Linked DNA regions of Homo sapiens. The protein of the gene in region 3 interacts with the protein of the main gene of each other region in a pairwise test. Each region holds a gene or a part of one and is shown on either strand. Other genes may lie near its edges.

Region 1 (5,650 bases), about 27 Mb from region 3:
GAGATCACGCTATTGTACTCCAGCCTGGGCGACAGAGCAAGACTCTGTCTCAAAAAAAAAAAAGAAAGAAAGAAAAAGGGGTTATTATTAATAATATAGAACACGCTCGCAGAATATAGAAAGAACCACCACCCAATAGGAAGATGAATTTCACATAATAAATGACCCCAAACACCTCCCACCTCAGAAGCAGAAAGGGGCCAACTCTTCCTCTCTCTGCCCCTTTCAGAGCGCGGCTCAGCCCGTTGGGTGCTTCTGCTGCAGCCTTGGATTAGGAGGGACTATGAGGTGGGGACAGCAATGACAGCCATCTGGCCAGGCCAATACATCCTGCCTGGCTGGGCTTTCAGCTCCCACCATTGCCCCTAGCTGGTCAGCAAGGTCCTGCCCGCCTCCTGGCTGTGGGGCTGCACATGTCAGATTCCCTTCCCATGTCTGGGGAGCTCCCACCTGAGGATCTTGCTGGAAAGTCCTTGCCTGGGCTGTGCCAATCCAAGGCCCTGCCCTGCTCTTGAACAAACAGCCACAGGCTAGGAGCAGGGCCACAAGATGGAGGCTGCAATGACGGCAGTGATCGGGGTGGGGTCGTCGTGGGAGGTTTTTTTTTTTTACAAATATAAAAACATTATATATATTGGGGGTATGTATATTACACGTATTATCCTTTTAAAAAGTTTTATTGTGAAATATTTATCCATGAGTACATATAACATAGATGTCCAGTTTTTCAAGTTACAAAAAGCAGACAGCCCTCCCTTTTTTTTTTTTTTTTTGAGACAGAGTCTCGCTCTGTCACCCAGGCTGTAGTCCAGTGGTGCAATCTCAGCTCACTGCAACCTCACCTCCTGGGTTCAAGCGATTCTTCTGCCTCAGCCTCCCCAGTAGCTGGGATTACAGGCGCACACCACCATGCCCGGCTAATTTTTGTATTTTTAGTAGAGACGGGGTTTTGCCTTGTTGGCCAGGCTGGTCTCGAACTCCTGACCTTGTGATCCGCCTGCCTCGGCCTCCCAAAGTGCTGGGATTACAAGCGTGAGCCACTGCGCCTGGCCAAAAGCAGACACCCTTGGAACCACCTCCCAGAACAAGAAGTGGAACATTTCAAGTAAAAAAAATTACACCTGCCCTATGACCCAGCAACCCCACTTCCGGAAATACAAGCAAAATCATGCCCAGGGGTCTTCGTGGCAGCTTGCTCTGCAATGGCAAACACCACACCAAACCAGGAGGAGCTAGCCTGTGCCGACACCTGCACACACGGCTGCCCCAAAGTCCCACACCCAGGGGTGGGATGCTGGAGATGAAGGTCCTGCCAGTGTCACGTGCTGCTTAGTGACAGGGTTGAGGGGCCTTAGTCGGCTTGACTCAAGGTGGCCTCACTGTGGCCTTTTGTATAAAAAAATCTTCAAGTGCTCATTGTTCCCTGAGTGACTCACTTGAGGTAACAGCCTACATACATGACCATAAATGTGGCCAAACATCCCACTCAGAAATATTCATCATAAGCCAGGCGTGGTGGCATACACCTGTAATCCCAGCTACTCAGGAGGCTGAGGTAGGAGAATCCCATGAGCCCATGACCGCACCCCTGCACACCAGCCTGGGTGACAGATGGAGATCCTGTCTCAAAAAAAACACATCAATGTTTGTATAGCTAAAAAGAAAGAAATTTAAATGTCCAATAATGGATAAATAAACTTGATAGTCATTAGAATGACTACAGCAATCAGTGAAAATTTTCAATCATGTGAAAAATGCTTATGTTAAGTCAGGAAACTTCAGAAAACACTGTAATCTGAGCTACTCTGGAGGCTGAGGTGGGAGGATCCTTTGAGCTCAGGAGCTCGAGGCTGCAGTGAGCCATGATTGTGCCACTGTACTCCAGCCTGAGTGACAGAGCAAGACCATCTCCTAAAAACACAAAAATGTTTAAATGCAGAAAACAAAATTGTTTGTAGAATACAATTATAAGGATGCACAAAATAAAAAGACTACAAGACAGGACGGACGTCTCTCCAAATGTTACAAAAAATTAAAGAGAGCTGCAGGCGGGGAGGAGGGAGGAATCTGTCTCCCCCTGGGACTACTCTGGCTCACCGCCCCTCCCTGACTGCTCCTTTGGCCCTTATCATCTCCAGAGGCAAGTTCAGGTAGATCTGAATTTTGTCACACACGCTGTCCTGTAAGCCCAGAAGTCCCCTGGGCACTGCTCTCGCCTCCCAGGCCCAGACAGTACCTAGAACTGGGTTCTCTCTGGGGCAAGGGCATCCCATTTATCCCCCTCCTAGACTGTGTCCCCTTCAAAAAGGCTGCAACAGTGAACTCTGCGTTTATGCTCACCTCCCCCAACCTCCCATCTCTTTCTGAGTTAACAGAGAGGCCAACAGCTGGTCCTCCAGTCCCCAAGCTGAAGCTGGGCAGCTCTTGGGCACATAGGCATGGTGGCAGCTATGCCAGGGCTCCATCCCATGCCTTCTTCAGCTGAGCACCTCTTCCTGGGGCCCCAGAGGGAACACAGCCCCTGGCTGATGGCACAGGGTCAGGGTCCTACCCTCGAGGAGCCAGAAGACGGGGGTGAGGGGCTGGTTGAAGAGGGCATGGAAGGTGTACAGGGGCTGGGTCTGGGGCTCCAGGCTGTAGAAGGTGAGGCAGCCTGAGGCCAGGTCCAAATCCATGCCCAGGAGCCGCCCTGACACCCCTGGGAGGCGCTGGGCTTCCCCGTTGTGCCAGGCCTGGAGGCTGTCCTCCTGGACGCAGAGCCCCCAGGAGCAGGGTCCCCGGCCAATGTTGTCTGTGTGGGGCCCCAGCCTGCACCGTGGCAGTTGCGGGTAGGAGACGCCCAGTGTCACCGAGTGGTCTGACGCGCGCACCTCCCAGTAGTGGTGCCCGGCCTGGAAGCTCTGGGCACATTGCACCTGCCAGAGCTCAAAGCTGCCGGGCCCGCCTGGGCCCCGGGACTGACGACAGTGCTTCACCTGCTGGTCCTGGCGCGACAGATAGAAGTGACGGTTGGCGCTGACTGGATCAAAGGTCAGATTGCGATAATCTGTTGGGGAAAGGAGGACAGCAGTGGGCTGGGGGAAGACAGCACAACCAGATCTCCATTTATCCGCTGCTAAACCTCCGCCAGGCACGCTGAGCACCGGCCGTCACCATAGCACTTAATCCTCGCCACGACCTCGCAGGCGGAATCCTCTATCAGCCCCGTTCACAGCTGAGAAAACTGGGGCTCTGAGAGCCATTAACTCAGTGTTAAGTGGAAGAATTACGGGTCTGTGCCCCAGACTCTGTCCTTCAACGCACACTGGCTGCGTCTGCTTCAGGGTGGATGTGCACGAGGTGTGCAGCGGGTGGGACCAGGCTCAGATGTCCCGGCAGGACAGTCAAAACAAGTGCCCCCCTCACTCACACGTGCATACGAACATGCACACACACACGTGCTCACAGCACACACAGGCACTTCCTTGCACACGCACACACAGGGGCACACATACACGAACGGCCTCCTTACTCTGCCAGAGTTTCCTCCTCAGTGGACAAACTGTGCTTGGGACCGGTGCCAGGGGACCTGGGGCCTCTAGGGGGCAAAGCAGTGTTAAGGGAATGGTTGGAGAGGTCACGATGTGTGGGCCCTGACCCGCCTCCACCCCCCCAGCGGGAGGGGCAGCTGGACCCAGGACAGCAGGGGGAGGCCTGGGGTCAGTCTTACCCACGGGGGCTAAGTCCACAGGCTTGGCTGGTGCCCCAGGGTGGCTCCCCTCTTCCAAGAGGAGGCCACACAGCCGGCTTAGCAACTGCTTCAGGTCACCCAGCTGTTGGTCTTCATCCCACTGCAGAGGGGTCAGTGGCCCAAGAGGCCCTGGGGGCTGGAGGAGCTGCGATTCCTGAGCCCCAGGGAGAACAAGTAAGCCTGGGCCTGAGGGGCAGGGAAGCAAGTCCGCCACCTATGCCCTGAGCCCTCGCACCTGCAGGAAGGTCTGCTCATCCACCTGCTCCAGGAGCTCCCGGATCCTGCAGCCATGGCGAGCCACAGCCTCCAAATGGACCCGCAGCCGCTGCTCCTCGTCTCGAGCCTGTGCCAGCGCCTGCGTCTTGGCCACCTCGATGCTCCTCAGTGCTGTCGTGTGCTGTATTTCCAGGGCCTGTAGCAGGCTGCTGAACTTGCCGGAGACCCAGGAGGCCAAGATGCAGGCCGAGTTCTGGGCGGGAACAGGAGGGGCTTCAGGGTGGCCAGGGCCCTGTGCCATACCAAGGGAGGCTAGGGCCAGGGCTGCCTGCTGGGCTGAGGGTCAGGGATGTGGGGAGGCAGGGTCCCGGGAACCTCCCCAGGACCCCTGTGCCCAGCTCCCTGCTCAGCCCCGCTCCCTGCTGCCTGGTGTTCCAGGGACCAGCTGGTGGCCGCCCCAGGATGCAGTGTGAGGCCATGGTGGGCGGGCAGGCACAGGCCTCGTACCTGGATCTGGCTGCTTTGCTTGCGCAGCTCTAGTAGCTGGCCTTCGGCCTGGGTGGCCTGCTGCTGGGTAACCTCCAGGCTGGCTCTCAGCTGGGCCTGTGGTGCGGGCCCACGGGACAAGCAACAAGAGAAGGCCAGGATTGGCTGTGATGTCCTTTCTCAGACAACCAACCATGCCTGCAGACACCAGGCAGCCCCTCCCCACGCCACCCCAGGCCAGCCTCCAGAGCACCGGCCTCGGTCTAACCCAGGGAGAGTTGGGGCCGTGCCCCGGGGGGGTCCAGACAAAGTCCTTCCTAATCTGCAGCAGGGTGGTGCCTGAGCAGAGCGGAAGCCTTGGGCTCAGGACCCAACTTCCATTCCCATTTCTACCTCTTGCATGCTGAGCAAGCTGAGGCCAAGCACCTGTCCTCTCTGGGCCTAACCCCCCACCCATCAATACAGGAAAGCGATAATGCTGGCTCAGGAGGCCTCGCAGGGAGGACCCCAAACACTAAAGCCGTTGGTCCCTGTCTCACTGCAGAGGGGTCAGTGGCCCAGGAGGCCCTGGGGCTTGAGAAGCTGACTGCAGGGACCTCCCAAAGCACCAAAGCTGTCTGACAAGTGGGCAGTTACTTGCTGGATAAACTAGATTCTTCTGGGGATCCGGCCAGTCCCTGGCCCTAGTTTTGAGACTGAGAGGGGAGGAAGGGACCCCTATTCGGTTGCGCTCCCTGAGTCCCTTGGGAATCAAAACACCGTGCTCTCATGAGAGCAGGACAAACCACGCAGGTCCCAGGGGCTCCATTCCCAGCACCTGGTCAAAAGCTTCACCACCTTGTTTCTGCTCCTCCCGCAATGCACTGAGATGGGGACCATTACTATCCCCACATCACAGAGGAGGAAACGGGCTCAGAGAAGTTGATAATTTGGTCAAAGTCCTCAGATCTTCCTAAGCCCAGAGCTCCTCCGGGCCCCCAGCCTCCAGCATTTCACACAGGAACACAGGAGGCCGGAGGGCAGGCTCTCCCAGGGCACCCAACCCTCCCCCAGGGACAGGCACCCCCATGTCCCTTTCCCTCTCTCTTGCAAAATCCTGGCTCCCCTGGTGCTACTGGCTGCCCCTGTCGCTCCCTTCCTCCACATGGCCCTCATCTACCGGCCTCCAACTCAAACTTCCGTGCCTAGCTCAGTCTTCTGCACCCGCCCATGAGCAGT
Region 2 (8,116 bases), on a different chromosome or scaffold from region 3:
CAGAAAGAGCCTTATGAACAAAAATGTTCCTCTTGTGCTATCTGTAAAAGGAAAATAAGGTAACAACCTAAATGTCCAATATAGAAATGATCATGTAAAATATATTACATCCACACACGGACTATTATATACTATTTTAATCAAAAGAAAACTATTTTTATGACCACGTAAAAGAGAGAGGTGACTTGTTCTGCACAGCTTCAAAGAATCAGAACCAGAGGGTGGAACTTAGAAGTCGGCAGATTTTGATTCAACATAGAAGAATGTTCCAGCCACAGAGGAAGCTGCCTTGTGAGGTAATGAGCTCCCTGTCACTGAAATTATCCAAGTGAGGCTGCTGCTTCTGTCAGGGAGGCTGAGGAAGGCTCATCTGGATGTGGAGGGAGTCTGGACTAGATAGTCTCTGAGGGGCGTCTGAAGGTTGTAGGTGCTGAGCAGGAGCCCCCTGAACAGACAGATGGTCAAGGGAAGGCTTCCACTCAGCCTACCCTCAACTTCTTTTCCTTCTGCTCCCAGTTACTCTAAATGTCTCCCAAAATATAGTCTTTTTTTCCTCTCTGAATGTGCTTTAAGTGTTTGGAGACTGGCCTGCTCAAGTCCCCTCATTAAGCCCTGGCTTCCTGAGCCCGTTCGCCTCACCCCAGAGCTCAGGGGAGTGCGAATCCTGCAGCTCTTTTGTGAGGCACAGCTCCAACCTTCCTCTGGGGGGCCCCATGGGTGCGCCAAGACCAGTGCCAATGACCTCATCAAATTCACAACAGGCAGTGAGGAAGACGATGAGGAAATTGGCTCGGAGAACGGAACCGCAGCCTGTTCAGCACCAGTTGACACCACGCTCCCATCTGCTGTTGCGGCTTCTTCACTCTGGCCTAGGCCAGTCCCCTGGGCCAAGAGAGCTCGCTCTATGAGCCCGAGGCTGCAGGCTGGGTCTGGGCGAGGTGGGGGCTCTGATGTCAGCCCGGGAGCCAAGGTGGCTGCCTCCCTCACTGACTGAGGGATCAGTAATTATTTCATTTACAAGCAGAAATAATCCAACTCAATAATCCAGGCAGACACATTCAAAGTAATTATCTGTGTAAGGCGTCCTGCACCATCACCTTCCTAGGAAGGAGGAAAAGAAGCCTAGCCCAGCAAAAAAAAAGCAGGTGGGGACCCCCATTGTCTGCAGCCTGTGTGCAGCAGCCTGCCAGGATTAATTACACACCAGTGCTAACACATTTATCACCTCGCCGCTGATTGGAAAACCAATGACTTTTAATAATTCATATCTGTGGCTCGGCACTCTGTGCCCTTGTGCAAAGACACAGAAACTCGCTTGTTTCCATAAGGAAAGCCCAGTGGCAGTGCCAGGAGGGGTGCCTTCAGCCCCTCCTGCCACCCCAACCTGGAGACAGGCCAGAGCCTAGCCGCTCCCACCTCCCCTCCACCAGCAGGGTCTGCTCATGTCCTGCTGAAGCTAAAATGCAGCTGCTCGGGGGTGAAAGCTGGCGACTGAACCGTCCTAGCCACAGGAGCCCTCCTCAGTTTCATACTCTTCCAGGGTGGCCTGGAAAACAGGATTTGGGAGATTTGTAGGGCAAGTGCCCGCAGTGCCCCCGCACCTGCCCAGACAGTGGGCTCAGGCAGATACCTGCCAGCCAGGACCCTGCCCCACCATGCAGGAGACCCTCAGCAGAGTGCACCACTCAAGTGATCAGATTGAGGGTAAAGGGTCTACAGGGCTTTGGGAAGAGCCTCCAATCCCTGAAGGCTGCAACCTCCTCTGACACCAGCTCTGAGCTCCAGCCTCCTCCCCACCACCTTCCACCCTCCTGCAGCTCTCCCTCCCCACCCCTGTGCCCCGGGGATGGCTCTCCCTCTATCCCGGTTCTCCATCTCTGCTCTCCCAGGCTCCACAGCCCCCTTCCCTGCCCTGGCTGGCCTGTTGTCTCAAAGAGCATTTCCCAGGAGCCTCTTCTCCCTTCTTCTCCCTTCTCCCCCACCCCCGCCACTTTCCTGTCTCGCCCCGCTTCCCTCCCCTTCCACTGTAGCCCTCCTTACCCTTCTCTGGCCAGTCCCCCAACTGTCCTCCTTTCCTCAGACTCCTCACACAATACCTCGAGGCTCTTAGCTGGCTGCAGCCTGGTCCCATCATTATAAATGCCATCCCCTCATTCCCTGCCCTCCTCTACCACATACCAGGCTCCAGCTCCTTCAAGAGCTCCCCACTAAATCTGAGACCCCCAGAGCTCAGATGCGTCCTAGGAATTGGAATCCAAGAGCCTCTGTCACCCTTCGACCCAACCTCTGACTCATAAGAATGATACACACCCTGACCCCTCCCCACGCTGAGGAAGGTGAGTCCCTGGGGCTGACCTGAGCCTGACCCTGGACCCCCTCCCTCTCTCCTTCCTGCTGGCAAGATTAAAGGGAGGGTGGGCTGGCCTCTCTGTGCTAGCTTGCGTGGGGGACCCCTGCTGGACCCTAGGAAGCTGCCAGCCCCAACGCTGCCTTCATCCAGGAGATGCAATTCAAATGTAATCAATTTAAACAGCATCAGCCCTGACAGGGGACTCTGGAGGTGGGGGTGGGGGCACAGGGAGGGCTATAATTAGCATTCTCAGCATCCATGATCCCCAAGTAAGGCTGCCAAGGATGAGAGATGGGGAAGCCAGTGCTCCGCAGTGCAAGCAGCCCAGGCTCACGCGGCAGACAGGCAGCTGCCAGCCCTGACCAGAGCCCAGCCTTCCTCCTCCCACCTCATCTATGTGATGCATGAAAACAGACTCACCGGCTTCTGAGGTGTGATCCCCGCGCTGGAAAGCTCTAACTCTGCGAGCCCCAAGGCACCCCTCCCCCCAGCTCAGGCCAGCTGGGGTCCTCCTCCCCCGCCCCTGGGGCCCCCTTCTGCAGAGCGGGGCTCCGGATCTAATCTGATCTAATCAGTCATCTCTCCGGCTGGCAGGTCCCTGGCGCAGGGAGAGGATGCTGTTGTGGTTACTGCAGGATCCAGCATCTTTCCCAGGCAGAGGCAGCTGGGCATGCTCCATCGGCTCCCCCGGGGATTTCAGGGCCACGTGACTCTCCCTCCCCAAGCTGTCACTTAGGATCAGGAGTAAATAGTCCCCGAAAAGGTTTAACTCCATCCACACCAGCGACAAGCTGCTAACCATCCACGCAGCCTGCCTGCCCGGGAGAGGATGGGGTGGCTCAGCACAGCCTCCTGGGCCTTCCACCACCAGGAGAAGGCTGCCCCCCAAAGGGGAGCAGGGCCACCGTCTGGGTAAGCTGCATTTTTAGAGTCCCCCACAAGAGACTGCAGGGAGCCAGAAACTGCCCAGGGTCTTAGAATCATGTGTGGGGCCTCACCCAGCCAGCCTGGTGATCACCTTTCACCTCTGTGGCTGTCTACTCCAGAGAGGGGCACGTCTCTAGGTGTCAAGAGGGCTTGGCTGGGGCCCTGGGGCCTCCCCATCCCCCGCCCCCCCCCCAATATGGTGAATTTAGAGAAATAACATTTGGAGAGGGTTGGGGGCCACTATGAGATGCCAGGATGAGTGGGGTGTGAGTGGGTTGTGGAGCCACTGCCCCCACACCAACCAGCCAGGCTCCTCCCAGGCCCTGGGAGGGAAGTCTGTGCTCCTGTTCCTTCCGTTGCACATTCCTTTACAGATAAGGGCTTCAGTTGGTAAAAATGATATAGGTACTCAGATCACACTAAGACAGACCCACTTGTATTGGAGTCGAGAGGCTTAATTTTTTAATCAAGTTGTTCTAATAATAAACAAAAAATGCAATTATCAGGTGAGTGGGGCCTTGCAGAAACCCTTTCTCTAGCTCCTGCCCAAATCGGTCTTGATAACCCTGAGCAAGGATGCTAGCCAAGCTACGGGGTACCTGGGTTCTGTATTATTCAGGATCAGAGGCAGAAGGAAGGACTTCAGACAATAGGGTCGTAGCTCTGTTTCTGCTTAGACAAAGATTGCTTTCTGCCTCAGTTTCCCTTTATCCACATCTCTCTCAGTTTTCCTCTATCCACGGATTCTCTGTGACAATGGGCAAGTGTAATAAAAACACTGATTTCATAAACAGGATCAGAAAGATGGAAAAAACCAAAAGATTCCCACCTCAACCTCCAGGCAGGCTCGCTGGTCTCAGTCCCATCTGCCCCTTAAACCTGGAAACTGGGGACTGAACCAGATGAGCTTCTGGAGTCACTTCTGAATAGAGAAATATGTCAAGAAGCAGGAGCTAGAGAAAGGGTGTCTGCAAGGCCCCACTCACCTGGTGATTGCATTTTTTGTTTATTATTAGAACAACTTGATCAAAAAATTAAGCCTCTTGACTCCAATACAAGTGGGTCTCTCTTAGTGTGATCTGAGTACATATATCATTTTTACCAACTGAAGCCCTTATCTGTAAAGGAATGTGCAACGGAAGGAACAGGAGCACAGACTTCCCTCCCAGGGCCTGGGAGGAACCTGGCTGGTTGGTGTGAAGGCTGTGGCTCCACACCCCACTCACACACACCACAGCATTGGAGGAAGACAGGGACCTAGAGAGCTACTGAAGGGACTGTCTTTCCCACCCCAGGGCAGGCCAGGCTGGAGCCAGGAATCTGGGGTTAGGGCAGCAGGCGCAGCTCAGCAGCACTCTTGGGGAGGGGGACTCTTGGTCACCTCCCACTGTTCCCCTGCCCAGCTGAGATGTCAGGCCAGCCCTGCATTGGCTATAGGAAAGCTGCTCTGCTGAAGGGGCAGACAAGTTGTGGATGAGGGCCCAGTGCCAGGCAGGACCGATCAAGCCCAACTCACCTGCCCTGGCTCTCCAGGACTTGGCAAGGCTGCCAGGTGCAGGCAGGGGGAGAGTCTGCTTTCAGTCAGCCAAGATGAGGGGCTCTTGGGGGTCTCTGACCCTGCGGAGCCAGTGGAGGAAAGGAGTGGAGGCAAGAGATTACAGCATCCCAGAGGGAGGCCGGGGAGGGGGACAGAGACCCCAGCCCAAGCCCCCACAATCCTCAGGCAGCTGGAAAAGGCAGGCGACCAACAGATGGGCCTGCTGGGCGGGTTTCCTCTCTGGCAGGCAGAGGGCAAGGGCCGCAGACGAGTCCCACGGATCCTTCGAGAAGCCTGAGCCAGACATGTGAATGTTTCTGGGGGATCTGAGTAGCTTCAGGGGCATGAGAAGCCAAAGGGAGGGTCGGTGTGGGGTGCATGCCTTTAGCTGGGGGACCAAGGCGGAAGAGATGTGGTAGCATGAAGATCTTAGAGCTACAGCAAGGACAGGTGAGGCGGATGGACCAGAGATAATAAATTCCCTTTGCCAAATCTAAGTTCTTGCTCTGCGAGCCCAGAAGAGGAGAAGCAAGCCTCACCTAAACAACTCCAATGGGGAAGGCGTGAGGTGGCGTGAGGGAGGGAGGATTCCACAGAAAGCACCTCTGCGATCCCGTCTCTCCTCTGCTCTACAATCACTGGTCCCCATTGCTCAGAGGATCAAGTCCAAGCTTCCCAGGCACCTACTCATGGTCTCCAAACACACGGGTCCTCCCCACCTTTCTGGTGCCATCCCCACTCCCTACCATACAGTCTTGGTGGCCACTAACTTGACTGGCTCACTGCCCATTCAGTGGAACTGCATCCACATGGGTCTCTCTTCCTCGCAGAACATGCCAACTAGGGGCAGCAAAGGGAGCTCCGTGGGATGAACTAGCTCACTGCAGCCTCCACCTCTACCTGGGCTTTAGCAATCCTCCCTCCTCAGCCTCCCAAGTAGCTGGTACTGCAGGTACACACCACCACATGCAGCTAATTTTTTAGTTTGTTTTACAGACAGAGTCTTGCTATGTTGCCCAGATTGGTCTCCATCTCCCAGGCTCAAGCAATCCTCCTGCCTCAGCCTACTGAGTTGCTGGGACTTACAGGTGTGAGCCACCATGCCTGGCTAACGATAACCTGTGTGACTTGGAAGCCCAGCTCCATCCCTGAGTAACTCACTGACTGAACAAATTACTTGACTATCCAGCCTGTTTTCCTCACCTGCAAATGGGCTTCTTTGAAGCCCAGCACATTCACTACCTTTTCTCCTCGGCCGCCTCCTTCTTTACTGTTCTGGGGTGTTATCTGCCTTTCTAAGCCTAGAGCTAGTGGGGTCACTGTACCAGAACTGCTGCCCCAGCACTCCTGTGCTCTGTCCTGTCTGCCTTCTGGAGACAACAGAACTGCTTTTGGTGGCTCCCCCGCCCCTCCCAGGGCCCCTCCTCCGGGGTCTCGCAGTTCGGGTTGGGGTCTGTACTGATGAATCCCAGAGACCCAGCACAGCCTTGGAGGCTCACCGGGGTCTCACTGCCCAGCCTGGAAGCACGCGGGGCAGAGACCTGGGCTTCTGATCTCTGCCTCCCTGCAACCCCTCAAGAAGCGCTGAGCAGCCCGTAGGCGCGCCAGGGCCGTGGGTGGACTGCCTGCCTGCACATTCTCGCACCTTCCTGGAGGAAGCTTCCAGAACAGAACAAGGAAGACCAACGGCTGGGTGGGGTTCCCTCGGTGGAGGAGCCGCAGGGGCCCAGCTTGGGAACCGGGTTATCAGGGGTGTGGCTCTGCAGAAAGCGTCCTGCCACGTCTCCCTCCCTGTCAACCTTGGGGAAGGAGAGAGGCACCCTTGGGGACAGAACTGGCCAGTTTCACCGGCGGCGGCTTCCGCAGGAACGCGGAGGAGGGAGACAAGGGGGCGGGGGAACACTTCCTGTTGGGCAGGAATGGGTGTTACATAGCTAGATCTTTAAGCATCAGAAAGACAGCTACCAGACCCACTATGGCTGGGAGGTGGCAGGGGATGGGAAAGGTGGCCCTGTCACCTCCGAGAAGGCGCCTTCAGCCTGGGGAGACGCTGTGAGCAAACCCCCTGAAAGCCTTGTGGGGCCATCATGTGTGCTCTGGAGCCCTCTTGTGGATTCTTGCGGTAAGTGCATACAGGCTTGCAGTGCGTTTCTCCCACGTTTTAACCTTTCGCTTGTTCTCTCCTCCTCCCACCACTCTTCCCAGTAAATGACACCTTCAAAACCACACGCACACTCGAGCAAAACGTCTGTTGTGGATACCATGAGAGTCACTTCCTAAATACCCTGAAAGAAAGAGCTTTTTGACACACAATTAACACATTTGTCTGCTCCTGGGCAAATGTCAATATTTGCTCATTGAAATTTCCCTCCCTCATCCACACTAAAAGAAACAAAATAACTCCTCCGGTTGTCTGGCTCTTATTATTACTTGGAATCCATGTCTGAAGTCGTTTGAGTTTCTAACTCATCCACCAACCAAATGTCATAAACCTTTGTGGGAACTGTGAAAATAGGAACGAACGGTGAGCCAGTCGTTCATTCATTCACTCACTCATTCAGCAAGAACTTACTGAGCACTTCGTTTGTCCAAGCAAGGTGCCAAGGATGCTGGGAAGCAGCCGTGCCATCATGCTAAGAGCAAAGCCTGTGAAATCAGGCACACATGAGGCCGCCTTCCCGCTTGCTTTCTATTAATACAAGCTTTGTGACATTGAGTAATACATACGAAGAACCAGTTTTCCCATTATTTGCTAAAAGCGGGATGATAGAACCTCCTCATAAAGGTGCGGTGAGGAATAAATGAGATAATGTCATAAAGCACTTAGCTCCTAGAGTGGCGGCTGCTGCTATGATATACAGAATGACCACCAGGTCTGGAAATGTATGTGAACACAGAATTCATGGCTGGTTGATAATTAAACAATATTGCCTGTGTCTCCGGACTTTACGACCCCCCTGTGTTGCCCCTGCCCTTGATGAGTTTTCAGTCTAGGCTACTGGTTCTCGAAGTGTGGGCCCCAGAGCAGCCACAGCAGCATAACCTGAGAATGTGTTGGAAGTGCAAATTCTAGACCCTCTGAATCCGAAACTCTAGGGGTAGGGCCCAGCCATCTGTGCTCCAACAAACCCTCCAGTGATTGTGATACACGCTCCAGTTGGAGAGTTACTAATCTAGTGGAAAATGACACAAGTATAAGCAAATAACTACCATACACGGACACATCCCTGAAGAAGTGACATCATGGGCAGGGCTTGAAGGAAGAACAAGTGTTCTCAGGTGGGCATGAGCCACATGAGGAG
Region 3 (7,000 bases):
CTCCTACGCTGTTGGTGTTGGGGTGGGTGAACAGACATAGTACGAGAGCTGGAGAGAGCCTTAAGAAATCTTAGTCAATTATCCAAGTCTCCCATTTCTTTTTCTTTCTTTTTTTTTTTTTTTTTGAGGTGGAGTCTGGCTCCATCGCCAAGGCTAGAGTGCAACGTGATCTCGGGTCACTGCAACCTTCACCTCCCAGGTTCAAGCAAAATTCTTGTGCCTCAGTCTCCTAAGTAGCTGGGACCACAGGCACGCACCACTACATCTGGCTAATTTTTGTATTTTTAGTAGAGGCAGGATTTCACTGTGTTGGCCAGGCTGGTCTCAAACTCCTGATCTCAAGTGATCTGTCTGCCTCGGCCTACCAAAGTACTGGGATCACAGGCATGAGCCATTGCGCCAGGCCCCACGAGTATCCCATTTCTAAGCAAGACCACCAGTAAGATGATCCAAACACCCAAGAACTGATTCTCCAGGACAGGAGAATTCTCATTCTCTTACCAACCAGGTGGTTTACATTAGTCTATCTATAATTTTTGTCTTTTTTTTTTTTTTTTTTTTGAGACAGAATCTTGTTCTGTTGCCCAGGCTGGAGTGCAGTAGTGCAATCTCAGTTTACTGCAACCTCTGCCTCCCAGGTTCAAGCATTTCTCATCCCTCAGCTTCCCAAGTAGCTGAGATTACAGGCATGAGCCATCATGCCTGGCTAATTTTTGTATTTTTAGTAGAGATGGGGTTTCACCATGTTGGCCAGGCTGGTCTTGGACTCCTGGCCTCAAGAGATCTGTCCACCTCTGCCTCCCAAAGTGCTGGGATTATAGGCATAAGCCACCGCACCTGGCTGTCTATCTACAATTTGGTCAATGATAGCCTCCTTCCTTAAAACAAGCCTAAATTTTGAGTTCTTATGGGAAGCAAAAGCACACTTTTCCCAGTAGAGGCAAAGAATGAACAATGGTTATCATCTTTGAATAGGAATCTTTCAACATGTGACACTACAGGTATGTTGTTTCTCTAAGCTACTGTTTCTGTGATCAACCCTCAGGGCTGGGAACAGAATTTAAATAGAGGATTCATATAATCCCTAAGATTCTGGGAGGGCTGAACGCATCTTAGCTTCAAAACACTATGGGCTGGGTGCAGTGGCTCACACCTGTAATAATCTCAGCCTCCCAGTTTGGAGGCTAAGGGAGGAGGATCACCTGAACCCAGGAGTTGCCTGGGCAATAGAGTGGGACCCTATCTCTACAACCAAACAAAACAAAACAGGGCCTGTAATCCCAGCACTTTGGGAGGCCGAGGGAGGTAGATCACTTGAGGTGAGGAGTTCAAGACTAGCCTGGCCAACATGGTGAAACCCCGTCTCTACTAAAAACACAAAAAATTAGCTGGGCATGATGGCGTATGCCTGTAATCCCAACTACTTGGGAGGCTGAAGTTGCAATGAGCTGAGATTGCTCTAGCCTGAGCAACAGAGCAAGACTCTGTCTCAAAAAACAAAACAAAACAAAAACTAGCTGTGGTGGTGCACACCTGTAAGTCCCAGCTTGGGAGGCTGAGGTGGGAGGACTGCTTGAGCTTGGGAGTTTGGAGTTGCAGTGAGCTGTGACCCAGCTACTGCACTCCAGCCTGAGTAACAGAGTGAGAACCTGCCTTTAAAAAAAAAAAAAAAAGAGGCTACTGACCAAGGAAAGTAAAGAGTTCCCTATGACTTCATGAAAATCAGTCTCCTCTCTGGCTCTCAGTCCCTCAAATGATATAGGTTGCTTTTAGCTTTTTTTTTTGAGACCGAGTTTCGCTCTTGTTGCCCAGACTGGAGTGCACTCAGCTCACTGCAACCTCGGCCTCCCAGGTTCAAGCGATTCTCCTGCCTCAGCCTCCCAAGTAGCCGGGATTATAGGCACATGCTACCACGCTGAGCCAATTTTTTGTGTTTTTAGTAGAGGCGGGGTTTCATCATGTTGGCCAGGCTGGTCTCACACTCCCGACCTCAGGTGATCTGCCCACCTCAGCCTCCCAAAGTGCTGGGATTACAGGCGTGAGCCACCGCGCCTGGCTATTTTTTTTTTTTTTTTTTTTTTTTTTTGAGACAGAGTCTCGGTCTGTTGTCCAGGCTGAAGTGCAGTGGCACAATTTCAGCTCACTGCAACTTCTGCCTCCTGGGTTCAAGTGATTCTCCTGCCTCAGCCTCCTGAGTAGATGGGACTACAGGTACACGCCACGATGCCCGGCTAATTTTTTGTATTTTTAGTAGAGACGGGGTTTCACCGTGTTAGCCAGGATGGTCTCAATTTCCCGACCTCGTGATCCGCCCGCCTTGGCCTCCCAAAGTGCTGGGATTACAGGCATGAGCCACTGAACCCAGGCTTAGCTGTGTCATTCTATGACAGCTGTCGATGCCACGCTTGTGGGGGGCTTTTACATGGCCAGCTGTAGGGCTTCTGCAATTAGCAGCAGGGGTTGTATTACCTGCATAGTTTGGCCTTGAAGGTGCAGGCGATCTTTGCAGGCCACCTCGTAGAAGTCGTAATACTCCAGAAAGGACTTCTCCATCACCCCTCTGGAAAACAAGCAGAAAAGTGTAAGTGAGAAACCCAGGGGTACAGGTCACCCCTTCCTTACCTAACCTTTTTTTTTTTTCAGATGGAGTCTTGCTCTGTAGCCCATGTTGGAGTGCAGTGGTGCAACCTCAGCTCACTGTGACCTCTGCCTCCCGGATTCATGCAATTCTCCTGCCTCAGCCTCCTGAGAAGCTGGGATTACAGGCATATGCCACCACGCCTGGCTAATTTTTGTTTTTAGTAGAGACGGGGTTTCACCATGTTGCCCAGGCTGGTCAGGAACTCCTGACCTCAACTGATCTGCCTGCGTCGGCCTCCCAAAGTGCTAGGACTACAGGCGCAAGCCACCACACCTGGCCTCTTTACCTAACCTTAATGCCAAATTAAATACCTACCATTCCCAAGTCCAGATCTGTTTTCTACAAAGATCTTTTCATTTTATTTATTTTTTATTTTTTTGAGACTGAGTCTCGCTCTTTTGCCCAGGCTGGAATACAGTGGCGCAATCTCGGCTCACTGCAACCTCCGCCTCCCAGGTTCAAGTGATTCTCATGCTTCAGCCTCCTGAGTAGCTGGGATTACAGGTGCGTGCCACCACACCCGGGTAATTTTTGTATTTTTAGTAAAGATGTGGTTTCACCATGTTGGTCAGGCTGGTCTTGAACTCCTGACCTGGTGATCTGCCTTCCTTGGCCTCCCAAAGTGCTGGGATTACAGTTCCTTTTGGAAAAAGGAACACCTAACTGCCCGTGGTTGACTTCCCCTACACATCAGGAATTATGAGTGTGACTGTAATATTCACCATTAGTTTTCTTTTTGAGGCAGGGTCTTGCTGTGTTACCCAGGCTGGAGTGCAGTGGTGTCATCACAGCTCACTGCAGCCTCAACCTCTTAGGCTCAAGCAATCCTCCCACCTCAGCCTCCTGACTGGCTGTGACTGCAGGAGCGTGCCATCACACCTGGCTAATTTTAAAATTTCTGTAGAGATGGGGTCTCCCTGTGTTGCCCAGGCTGGTCTCGAACTCTTGGGCTCAAGTGATCCTCCCGCCTCAGCCTCCCAAAGTACTAGGATTACAGGCGTGAGCCACCACCAAGCCAATACTCACCATTTGAATCCCAACTTCAACTCATGACTTGCTCCACCTCCATTGCTTTTCATCAGCCATCCCCAATCCCAAACCTTACTCAAAATTCTCCTAGAAGTTTATTTATTTAACCCTGACGTTGCTCATCCAGTTTTGGCACTTAAAAATAACTTCAGCACTAAGAAATGAGTCTTATTATGAAGTACTCTACACATTTGGCTGGAAAAAAGTACGTCCAAGCCTTCATCAAACTGGAAGCTCCCTGAGCGTGTGGACTGCCTCTCCCAAAGGCATGGCATTCTCCAACAACAGAGTAGCTCTCTGAACTTCCTCTTGGGTAACCCTCAGCCACTTGTTCTTTAAAAGCAGGAACCACATCTTTCCTTCTTCTCTATCTCCCTCTGGTACCCAACACTGTACTCTGCCCCAAAGATGCCAACTACCCAAATGCCCGAAAGGAATACCAAGCAAGCCCGCTTGACACATACCGTAGGGGTTCAGGACAGGGACACTTTCCTTCCATCATGTCACAGACTGCAACTCTGATGGTCTCGTGCCGGATACATTCATTATAGTTTTTGCTGTCTCCTGGATGTCTCTCCTATAATGTAACAGATGCCAGAGTATTCCAAAAATTAAGCAAAAAGAAAACCAATGGGAAGGGACTTCAAGATTAGTATGGGGTATGTCAGCCAGTCACACAAACTAAAAAGATACCTTTCCCACTGTATGGCAGATCCATGAAGAGCAACCACACCTTTATTTTTGACACCATTCACCTCCACCACCCTCCAAATATACCAACAGGTTACAGGTCATTTGGCCTATCACCAGCAAACTAGATCCATCATATTTTCCTGAATGTGAAGTGAAAGGTCTATCAAGTAAAGATTATGTGGGAAATAACCAAACATAAGAATGATGGTAGGGTTGCTAAGCCTGGTGGCATAAACTAATAGTCCCAGCTACTCAGGAAGCCAAGGTGTGAGGATCACTTGAGCCCAAGAGTTTGGGTTCAGCCTAGACAACAAAGTAAGTTCCTGTTTTTTCAGTTTTTCTTTTTGGAGACAGGGTCTTTGCTGTTGCCCAGGCTGGAGTGCAGCGGCACCATCACAGCTAACTGCAGCCTTGACTTCCTGGGCTCCAGCAATCCTCAAACTCCTGGGCTCTAGCGATCCTCCCACCTCAGCCTCCTGAGTAGCTGGGACTAAAGACATTCGTCACCATGGTGGGCCCCGAGTTTTTATTTTTTATTATTTATTTGTTTTTTTGAGTTTTGCTCGTCACCCAGGCTGGAGTGCAATGGCACGATCTCAGCTCACTGCAACCTCCGCCTCCTGGGTTCAAGCGATTCTCCTGTCTCAAGCCTTCCAAGTAGCTGGGATTACAGGCGCCTGTCACCACGCCCAGCTAGTTTTTGTATTTTTTAGTAGAGACAGTGTTTCACCACGTTGGCCAGGCTGGTCCTGAACGCCTGACCTCAGGTAATCCACCTGCCTCAGCCTTCCAAAGCGCTGGGATTACAGGCATGAGCCACCGCACCCGGCTTGTCTTTTATTTAAAAAATTTTTAAGAGGCAGGCTCTTGCTTTGTCATCCAGGCTGGAGAGTGGTGGCATGATCAGAGGTTACTGCTGCCTCGAATTCCTGGGCTCAAGCGATGCTCCTCTCCTCAGCTTCCCAAGTAGCTGGGACTCAAGGCACATGTCACAATGCCCAGCTATTTTTTTAAAAAAGTTTTTCGGTAGAGACAAGGTCTCACTACGTTGCCCAGGCTGGGAAACACTTGTCTCTTTAGGGGGAGAAAAAAAAAAGACAGAAAGAATGATGGTGGGACAAAAAGGTATAAATGAAGTGAAGAGTCTCAGTGTAGAAAACCTTCAGGCATCAACAAGTAAAGGATGCTTCCTGGTTAACCCCTTTACCTGTTATATGTCTCTAGGGTCCCACCATCATTGAACCAATTATTATAAATCAGAAGTAGGGCTGGGCCCGATGGCTCATGCCTGTACTCCCGACACTTTGGGAAGCCGATGCAGGCGGATCGCTTGAGTTCAGGAGTTCAGGATCAGCATTGGCAACATGGTGAGATCCCGTCTCTATAAAAAATACAAAAATTAGCTGGGCATTGGTGGTGTGCACCTGTCGTCCCAGCTACTCAGAAGGCTGAGGTGAGAGGATGGCTAAAGCCCAGGAGTTCGAGGCTTCAGTGAGCTATGACTGTGCCACTGTACTCCAGCCTGGGTGACAAAGCAAGACTTTGTCTCAAAGAAATAGTACAATTAGAAATAAATCTATCAGAAGCTTCGAAAGATAAACTTCAACTTTGGTCTAGAAAGCCAATATAAACAGGGTCTCACTATGGTGTGAATAGAAGGGGAGTATGGCCTCTACTCCTTTAATTTTTCCTGTGCTCTTCTCCTCTTACCACCAACCCCAGTCAATTAGAGCCCTGGCCTCTGATAAAAATAGCTGATGGGCCAGGCGCGGTAGCTCACACCTGTAATCCCAGCACTTTGGGAGGCCGAGGCAGGTGGATCATAAGGTCAGGAGGTGGAGACCAGCCTGGCCAAAACAGTGAAACCCCGTCTCTACTAAAAATACAAAAATCAGCTGGGTGTGGTGGTGTGTGCCTGTAAATAAATAAAAAATAAATAAATAAATAAAATAAAAACAACTGCAAGTCATTCTGGAAGTAAAAAATAAAAAACACAAGGCTGGGCATGGTGGCTCACACCTGTAATCCCAGCACTTTGGGAGGCGGACGTGGGCAGACTGCTTGAGGCCATATGTTCAAGACAAGCCTGGCCAACAGGGCGAAACCCCATCTCTACTACAAATACAAAAATTAGCCAGGCGTCATGGTGTGTGCCTGTAATCCCAGCTACTTGGGAGGCTGAGGTACTAGAATCGCTTGAACCTGGGAGGCAGAGGTTGCAGTGAGCTGAGATCACACCACTGCACTCCAGCCTGGGTGACAGAGTGAGAGTCTGCCTCCAAAAAAAAAAAAAAAAAGACAAGACCTAAAAATCAGCTCCTGCTAATGAGGTCTATTTCAATTAGACTCTCCTCCTGAAATGAATGTTTGGAGAAAGGATGGGTTAGGAAATAATTTTTGTTAACTTTTGAGGCCAGACTCTGTGGCTCACACCTGTGATCCTACCACTTTGTGAGGCCGAGGCAGGCTGATCACCTAAGGTCAGGAGTTCAAGACCAGCTGGCCAACATGGTGAAACGCCACCTCTACTAAAAATACAAAAATTAGCCAGGCGTGGTGGTGTGCGCCTGTAGTCCCAGCTACTCAGGAGGCTGAGGCAGGAGAATTGCTTGACCCTGGGAGGTGGAGGCTGCAGTG

The links.
Region 1: the proteins of UBE2Z (region 3) and TRIM65 interact in a two-hybrid assay, tested with the Homo sapiens proteins (one study listed by BioGRID and IntAct).
Region 2: the proteins of UBE2Z (region 3) and PLEKHA6 interact in binary tests that used the Homo sapiens proteins (3 or more experiments, as listed by UniProt).

The regions. Positions count from the first base shown.
Region 1 is NC_000017.11:75,888,302-75,893,951, forward strand, and holds the end of TRIM65 (E3 ubiquitin-protein ligase TRIM65), read right to left. Parts: intron 4,550-5,650; coding exon 4,454-4,549; intron 4,239-4,453; coding exon of another isoform or gene 4,200-4,238; coding exon 3,966-4,199; intron 3,885-3,965; coding exon 3,710-3,884; coding exon of another isoform or gene 3,578-3,709; coding exon 3,512-3,577; intron 3,047-3,511; coding exon 2,478-3,046; 3' UTR 662-2,477; downstream 1-661. UniProt on the Homo sapiens protein: E3 ubiquitin ligase that plays a role in several processes including innate immnity, autophagy or inflammation.
Region 2 is NC_000001.11:204,356,924-204,365,039, forward strand, and holds the start of PLEKHA6 (pleckstrin homology domain-containing family A member 6), read right to left. Parts: upstream 3,007-8,116; 5' UTR 2,771-3,006; intron 1-2,770.
Region 3 is NC_000017.11:48,918,407-48,925,406, reverse strand, and holds part of UBE2Z (ubiquitin-conjugating enzyme E2 Z), read right to left. Parts: intron 4,248-7,000; coding exon 4,135-4,247; intron 2,561-4,134; coding exon 2,470-2,560; intron 1-2,469. UniProt on the Homo sapiens protein: Catalyzes the covalent attachment of ubiquitin to other proteins. Specific substrate for UBA6, not charged with ubiquitin by UBE1. May be involved in apoptosis regulation.